2 linked regions of the Homo sapiens genome follow. The protein of the gene in region 1 purifies or fractionates together with the protein of each later gene. This does not show direct contact. Each region holds a gene or a part of one and is shown in the gene's direction. Other genes may lie near its edges.

Evidence for each region. Proteins that work in one complex are often made in the same cells at the same time.
Region 2: the proteins of A2M (region 1) and PRADC1 purify together in Homo sapiens (co-immunoprecipitation; 3 studies listed by BioGRID and IntAct, with this or other methods). This does not show direct contact.

Annotation. Positions count from the first base shown.
Region 1 is NC_000012.12:9,104,783-9,110,314, reverse strand, and holds part of A2M (alpha-2-macroglobulin isoform a precursor), read left to right. Parts: coding exon 1-1; intron 2-279; coding exon 280-448; intron 449-909; coding exon 910-994; intron 995-2,670; coding exon 2,671-2,791; intron 2,792-3,709; coding exon 3,710-3,824; intron 3,825-3,969; coding exon 3,970-4,079; intron 4,080-5,532. UniProt on the Homo sapiens protein: Is able to inhibit all four classes of proteinases by a unique 'trapping' mechanism. This protein has a peptide stretch, called the 'bait region' which contains specific cleavage sites for different proteinases.
Region 2 is NC_000002.12:73,227,510-73,230,239, reverse strand, and holds the end of PRADC1 (protease-associated domain-containing protein 1 precursor), read left to right. Parts: intron 1-26; coding exon 27-127; intron 128-669; coding exon 670-779; intron 780-1,277; coding exon 1,278-1,445; intron 1,446-1,665; coding exon 1,666-1,786; 3' UTR 1,787-2,230; downstream 2,231-2,730. UniProt on the Homo sapiens protein: Plays a role in the modulation of physical activity and adiposity.

The DNA of each region.
Region 1 (5,532 bases):
GGTAAGCAACATGAAACATTCCATATTAAAAGGAAAGCAATACATATAGGGAAAATGTTCTTATTTCAGAGGTTTTTACAATATCTCAGAAACTTGTCATTAAAGGAGAAGCCTTCAAACTCCCATAGAGCTAGATGGCTATAACTCATCTCCTCTACTCACCCTTTACTACTACCCCATTTGACCTTTTTGTAGATAACTTAGGGTTTCCATAGATATCTTTTATTAGCTCCAATGCTCCAGGTGCTTTTGTAAGTTATAATTAATTTACTCATATAGGATCCCAAAGGAAATCGCATCGCACAATGGCAGAGTTTCCAGTTAGAGGGTGGCCTCAAGCAATTTTCTTTTCCCCTCTCATCAGAGCCCTTCCAGGGCTCCTACAAGGTGGTGGTACAGAAGAAATCAGGTGGAAGGACAGAGCACCCTTTCACCGTGGAGGAATTTGGTATGGATCATGAAAAGTCATCAAGCATTATTTTTCTTCATATTTAAACTCTTAGGTCCTGGAATTTAAGTTCATTTGGAGTCTTTCCATTTCCCATGGGTGACATTGGGCTTGGAGTAGAATTAATTACACCTAAGTCCAATGAGGACATCAGTGATCTGTGAATAGGACTTCACATAGCTTCGTTATTTTCTGTAGCAATATTTAATACCAACCCCCAAAATTAAAACATTCTTGTTTTAATGGAGTTTTCCATAATTAATTAAGCACACAGTGATCTCTCATAGTCCCTCAACTGAAATCTTCATTTGAGAGGAGGATAGATAAGAATAGATTGGAGAGCAGAGCTACCTTTTCAGAGCCCTAAAATATTATTAGGGAACTGTTACAGGGAACCTGAAAATAGGAATTCCCCCAAAGTTGAAAACCAATCACCAACCTTCTTTATCACCAATCAACAGTTCTTCCCAAGTTTGAAGTACAAGTAACAGTGCCAAAGATAATCACCATCTTGGAAGAAGAGATGAATGTATCAGTGTGTGGCCTGTGAGTTCATTTTTTAAAAATCTTTTGTGGGGGATTATTTAAAAGAGACTCACCATTTGGGATATTTTAACTACTCTCTCCGGGAGCAGTGGCAACACAAAAATTTTAAGTGCTTTGACAGCATCCTCATCTGTAGAATGTTATTCTCCTGTTGCTTTTCTATTTTTATTTTCTTTCACGTTCTTATCAGTATTATTCTATCATGAGGTAAGAAACTGTTTCTAGAGAGGTTATGCTAATAGGATTGATTCTGAAAGTGACAAAACTGCACACACACACACACACAAAATGGGAAGGGTGGATAGTGTTGAAGGGTATTGGTTCTGCCTTAACCAAAAATAACCAAACGTATATTAGGGAGATAATTAACACATGGCTATAGGGGAAATTCAATCATCAACAGATCATTTACCTGACCTTGCATGCTTACTGGAAAAATCACTTAGATTCAGAATTTGTAGAGATAGGCATACAACTGAAATCTCATCTAACTCACTAGTCCACCTAAGGCGGGTCTACATACCTGTCTGCACTGACATTTTTACGAAGAGACTGAACGTGATTTCTCAAGACAGTCTGTTCCAACCTTGAAAAGTCTTGTTTCCTGGATCTTATGTTCCCATCCATGGTGGCACACAGTAGCAGTAGCAGGAAGAGCAGGTATAGTCCTGTCCAAAGATCACACATGTAATACACCTACTATTCAGCTAGGCCCCTGCTCCAGTTCTGTCTCACAGTGATGGCCAAGTTCCTGGTTCCTCATAACTGGTGTGATCTTGCAAATAGACATACAGAGGACATTCTCAAATAGGAAAGGAGACAAATGCACTTGGAAACCCAGCAATTGTCTATGACATATTTACGACACAATCCCACTTTTGTAAAAAAGTAAACAGGCCCGGCGTGGTGGCTCACGCCTGTAATCCCAGCACTTTGGGAGGCTGAGGTGGGCAGATCACGAGGTCAGGAGATCAAGACCATCCTGGCTAACATGGTGAAACCCCGTCTCTACTAAAAAATACAAAAAATTAGCCAGGCATGGTGGCCAGCGCCTGTAGTCCCAGCTACTTGGGAAGCTGAGGCAGGAGAATGGCATGAACCCAGGAGGTGGAGGTTGCAGTGAGCCAAGATCGCACCACTGCACTCCAGCCTGGGCGACAGAGCGAGACTCCATCTCAAAAATAAAATAAAATAAAATAAAATAAAATAAAATAAAATAAACAAGTGAAACTCGATATAGAGATGGCTGCACATGGGGAGAGGATGATGGAAGAAGAGACACTATCGTACTAATAGTTTGTATTCCTAGGTAGACTTGAGGGCGTTTGGGTTTTTTTTGTTCTGTTTTGTTTTGTTTGTTTCGTCTTGCTGGTATTGTTTCTCTTTTAAGAACGGGTTTAAGTTTTATAATAAGAAAGACTTTTTTAAGATAAAACTAAAAAAAAACGAGGAAAAAAAAGAAATGATAAAAGAAGAATGTAAATTTCAGCATGTTGCAATGGAGATTTCTATAAGAGCCATTAGTGACTCTTGTCTTCAATATTGTGTGAGCCCAGCAGAGAGCAGAGGGAAGTACAGACAGGGAATATACTGTAGCTAAAGGGGAGATATAAATAGCTAGAAAATGGGGAGGTTCAGTGTCTGCTCTGATTCCTTTGGGAATGTTCTCATGACAGATACACATATGGGAAGCCTGTCCCTGGACATGTGACTGTGAGCATTTGCAGAAAGTATAGTGACGCTTCCGACTGCCACGGTGAAGATTCACAGGCTTTCTGTGAGAAATTCAGTGGACAGGTAGGTTGAACACTATTTTTTCTAGAGAATAGCGATAAAGGCATTGTTGAAAAGCAGTGAGTTGCAGCATTTTTCTGACGCAGGAAGAGAACAATCTAGAAGAGAATTCCATGTTGGCTATTGTAATTTTTCAAAAAAAATCATGAACTTAGCACAATGGGAATTATTTATTTCTCGTAATTGCCCATTGTGAGTGTTTCAGAACGATAGACACTGAGCCATCTAAAGCCTCCATGGGCATTCACTTCTACAAAGGAAGGAAAAAACCATACACCTCTTAATTGCCTTAGCTGGCCAGGCCATCAGTTCTGCTCTCTCTGTGAACAAGAACCTATCACATGGCCCCACCAAGATGCCAGAGAGTTGACAAACACAGTCCCCATATAGAAGGCCGCTTCCCAGCCACAGCTGAATATTATGGAGGAGGAACCAGACTTTGATGAGGAGTTCTAATGGTCAAGAGCAGATGTACTGTGTATTTCAAAATAGCAAGTGGACAGGACTTGAACTATTTCCAACACATAGAAATGATACATACTTGAGTTGGTAGGCACCCTAAATCCCGCGATGTGATCATTACACATTCTCTGCATGTAACAAAATATCTCGTGTACCCCATAAATATGTATAAATATTATGCATCCTTTGTACAAAAAAAATTACTCCTCAAATTTTAAGACATTTCTATCGCAATATATCTAGGGAATTTCAGATACCAAGGAATACATCTGTCAATTATACATGAGATATTGTTGTGAAATTTAATATTTAGTTGCTAGAGAATATTTATTGTGTCCTCGTCATAGAAAATGCCTACATGATGTTGTCCCCCCACAAAAATCACACCGGTTATCTGACCACTGATCTATTTAGTATAATATGCATTATATTTTTGTATTTTATTTTCTCCCTTCTTAGCTAAACAGCCATGGCTGCTTCTATCAGCAAGTAAAAACCAAGGTCTTCCAGCTGAAGAGGAAGGAGTATGAAATGAAACTTCACACTGAGGCCCAGATCCAAGAAGAAGGAACAGGTTTGTGTACTACATGGGTATAAGAGAAAACACAACAGGCATTGATTTTCTTAGCCAAATAATGAATTGTAAGTTGGGGGGAGGTGATAGAATTTTAGAGACATCATTCTTCCCAAAAATAACAGATTTTTTTCTCTTTTTTCAGTGGTGGAATTGACTGGAAGGCAGTCCAGTGAAATCACAAGAACCATAACCAAACTCTCATTTGTGAAAGTGGACTCACACTTTCGACAGGGAATTCCCTTCTTTGGGCAGGTGGAGTATTTTCCAGTTCACTCATCAACCCATGTACTGTTACCTAATTAGCACAATAGTTATGGTTTGTGCTAAAACCATGCCTGGTTAATGTTATCATTTAATATAACCAAAAGTATAAAATATCACCAAGGCTTGATTAGTATAACCAAAGGTATAAAACTACATAAAAATAGATTTATTCTTCTGTAAATTTGTGTATGAAATGTATGTAATTATCCTAAGGCCTTATTAAAATTAGTAGAGTTTTCCCCCCTTCTTTTGAAACAGCATTGTACAAGTCACTCAATCTCCTTCTCATGGTTTACCAGGCAGTCTCAGGTTTTTATGACATTTTCTCACAAGAATCTCAAAATTCATGCTGACCAGTTTCATTACGATGCTAACACTAACTTTGTATGGAAACAGGTGGGTAGGTGGTTTTAATTTTTATTTTGAAGTATTAAAGATTCTACAATAATGTTTATTTCATGGATAGTATATTTACACTATTTTTCTATAACAAGTATATTTCTAAAACAGTGAACATGGGGTAAAACACTGCTATTTAAGGTTCTCAGATTTTTGAATTATGAATTTTCATGTTATCTACCAAAAAAATCTTCTCTTACAATTTTTCTGTTGTCAGCAGATGTGCAAATGGATCTTTATGACTCTAGAAGTCTGAGATCACAGTTACATGTGCCTCAATGTGTATTTACTGTGTATCATTTTCTTAATGTAAATGTTACAGGATTTCAGCTATGAAGGGTGTAAAAGAGGCATAGACTCAACAAAGTGGAGTACATTCTAGAAGGCTTGGTTATGTCATGACACCAAAATGTATTCAACTTCCTAAAATGAAAGTGTAGCTCATTTGTAAATTTCTCAGAAAGATAGTGTACTTTGTAAGTACATTTTATTGCTGTTAAATATCCTATTTGTCATAAGACTCTCTAGCTAGAAGAAAATCAGAATTATGTGCCTATTCTTGTCTTTGTACATGCAGCCAACATTTCACTGGCAAACTTAGATTTTGTAAATCAATTATGAGTACTGATGGGGGTCAGCCTATTGTTCTTCCTGCTACCAACTGTAGCTTATACTGAAAAAGAATTGCCACCTTTACAATCTGAACTGGACTACTCAACTGCCAATACAATATTAGCAGTAAATTAGATTTGGCAACTTATTTAATACTGTGTGCCTCTTTTCAATTTTATATTTTTCACATGGGAAGTGTGTCATAAAATCTGCCTACCTTCCAAAAGGCTGAAGATCTAGGTTGAGAAGCAGAGACCATGTCTAAGGCAACTGGAGAAACACACAGGACAATGTATTGGCAATTGTTTACTTGTGCACTTATGAGACTTCAGACACTAATCTATAGGAAGTTAATGGTCCACTCCAAAATAGGTGTTTGGGGCACAAATAAATTTAGTTAATAGATTAATAGATTAAAATATTTCATTAT
Region 2 (2,730 bases), on another chromosome or scaffold:
TCTTACCTGTACTCTTTATCCTTCAGGCTTCCGTATCCATGATTATTTGTACTTTCAAGTGCTGAGTCCTGGGGACATTCGATACATCTTCACAGCCACACCTGCCAAGGACTTTGGTGGTATCTTTGTAAGTTAAGGGAGGCCCCTGATCTCTGATCCTCAACCTCCCCCTTCCCCTCACTGAGCTGCAGTGACCCTCTCATCCCACCTGAGTGCTGGGACAGGGAAGGGAGCAGAATCAGCTCTGCCTTCCATGAGCTGCAGCACAGAAAGGAAGCTCTTCCAGCTACTCCCCTGAGTATAATATAAACCTAGGCACCATGGAGGGACAAGTTGTCTTTTTAGGGGACATGAAGTGAAAAGCCAAGAGCACCAGCTTCCTCTGCCAGCTCTACCTGTGAACTATGTGACTTAAGGCACATCACTTCCTCTCTCTGGATCTACAACCAAGTCCCCTGCCTATCTCATAGAAGGGTAGGGTGGTGTAGGACAACCAGATAGGCCTTTGCGAGAATTAAGTAAAAATGTTTAAGTGTCTGGCGATACAGAAACCACTCCATGTTTCCTTCACACTTTATAAGGTGCCAATAAGATGGGATTGTCAGCCCAGTCCTAAAGCAGGTGTGTCTCATTACACTCTCACCTGTCCAAATGTTAAATGTTTTTCAGCACACAAGGTATGAGCAGATTCACCTTGTCCCCGCTGAACCTCCAGAGGCCTGCGGGGAACTCAGCAACGGTTTCTTCATCCAGGACCAGATTGCTCTGGTGGAGAGGGGGTAAGGAGTGGGCAGGCAGGACACGAGGAGTGGGCAGGCATACGGCAGATTCTGAGATTATTGGTAGTAGTGCTTTGAAAGAGCTGTTTTTGAAAATTTCATCTTTTTAAGCGTCTTTAAGAAATGTCTAGCCTGGGCAACATGGAGAAACCCTGTCTGTACAAAAAATACAAAAATTAGCTGGGCATGGTGGTGCACACCTGTGGTCCCAGCTACTCGAGGCTGAGGTGAGAGGATTGCTTGACCGCATGTTAAGGCTGCAGTGAGCCGAGATCACGTCACTGCACTCCAGCCTGGGCAACAGAGCAAAACCCAGTCTCCAAAAAAAAAGAAAAAGGAAAAAGAAATGTATTTAAATTATCCATGCTTTTAGCTATTTACTTATGAGCCTTTATAACAGATTCTTCATAGTCTGCCTTCTATACTCCCAGGGTGATGGTCTGGGGAAGGGGGAGCTAGGACCTGTCTTTCCTTTGGTCTTATCACCACCTCTTCCAGGGGCTGCTCCTTCCTCTCCAAGACTCGGGTGGTCCAGGAGCACGGCGGGCGGGCGGTGATCATCTCTGACAACGCAGTTGACAATGACAGCTTCTACGTGGAGATGATCCAGGACAGTACCCAGCGCACAGCTGACATCCCCGCCCTCTTCCTGCTCGGCCGAGACGGGTGAGGGCTCCTTGCCTCTGGCTTTATCAGCACCAGGCTGGGCGCCATGACTGGGTCAGGGGTAATCACCAGTCCCTTCTTGCAGGCCTCAACTTGGGGTGCTTCAGTTAGAGGGCAAAAAAAGATCTCGGGCTTTGGAACTCCCAGATTGATGGGGACAGTGGGGCATGATGGGGTACCAAGAAAGTGACCGTCACCACCTCTCTTCATGCCCTCCCAGCTACATGATCCGCCGCTCTCTGGAACAGCATGGGCTGCCATGGGCCATCATTTCCATCCCAGTCAATGTCACCAGCATCCCCACCTTTGAGCTGCTGCAACCGCCCTGGACCTTCTGGTAGAAGAGTTTGTCCCACATTCCAGCCATAAGTGACTCTGAGCTGGGAAGGGGAAACCCAGGAATTTTGCTACTTGGAATTTGGAGATAGCATCTGGGGACAAGTGGAGCCAGGTAGAGGAAAAGGGTTTGGGCGTTGCTAGGCTGAAAGGGAAGCCACACCACTGGCCTTCCCTTCCCCAGGGCCCCCAAGGGTGTCTCATGCTACAAGAAGAGGCAAGAGACAGGCCCCAGGGCTTCTGGCTAGAACCCGAAACAAAAGGAGCTGAAGGCAGGTGGCCTGAGAGCCATCTGTGACCTGTCACACTCACCTGGCTCCAGCCTCCCCTACCCAGGGTCTCTGCACAGTGACCTTCACAGCAGTTGTTGGAGTGGTTTAAAGAGCTGGTGTTTGGGGACTCAATAAACCCTCACTGACTTTTTAGCAATAAAGCTTCTCATCAGGGTTGCAACTGTGTCCTAGAATAAGAGCACACGGGTGGGCAGGACCTTCAAACTCACTCGTATCGTCCCATACTGTCGTTCTGAGGAAAGGAAACACCCACAGAGGACAGTGACTGGCCTAGGTCATTTGGGACCAGTGCTCAGACTGCTAGTCTTAGATCCCAGCACAGCTTCCTGCTAGGAGCCAAGGAAGCCCTGGGAAGCCAGAGTTCAGCCCCTCAGGAGAAGACTCATCTTAGAGCCTGGAACTGGGGGTCCAAACTGGACCTCAGGGCTAGGCATGGTGGCCCATGCCTGTAATCCCAGCACTTTGGGAGGCCGAGGTGGGAGGATCAGTTGAGGCCAAGAATTCAAGACCAGCCTTGGCAACAACATAGCAAGATCCCATCTCTACAGAAAAATTAAAAATTAGCTGGGTGTGGTGGTGTGAGCCTATAGTCCCAGCTACTCAGGAGGCGGAGGTGGGAGGATCACTTGGGCCCAGAAGTTCAAGGCTGTAGTGAG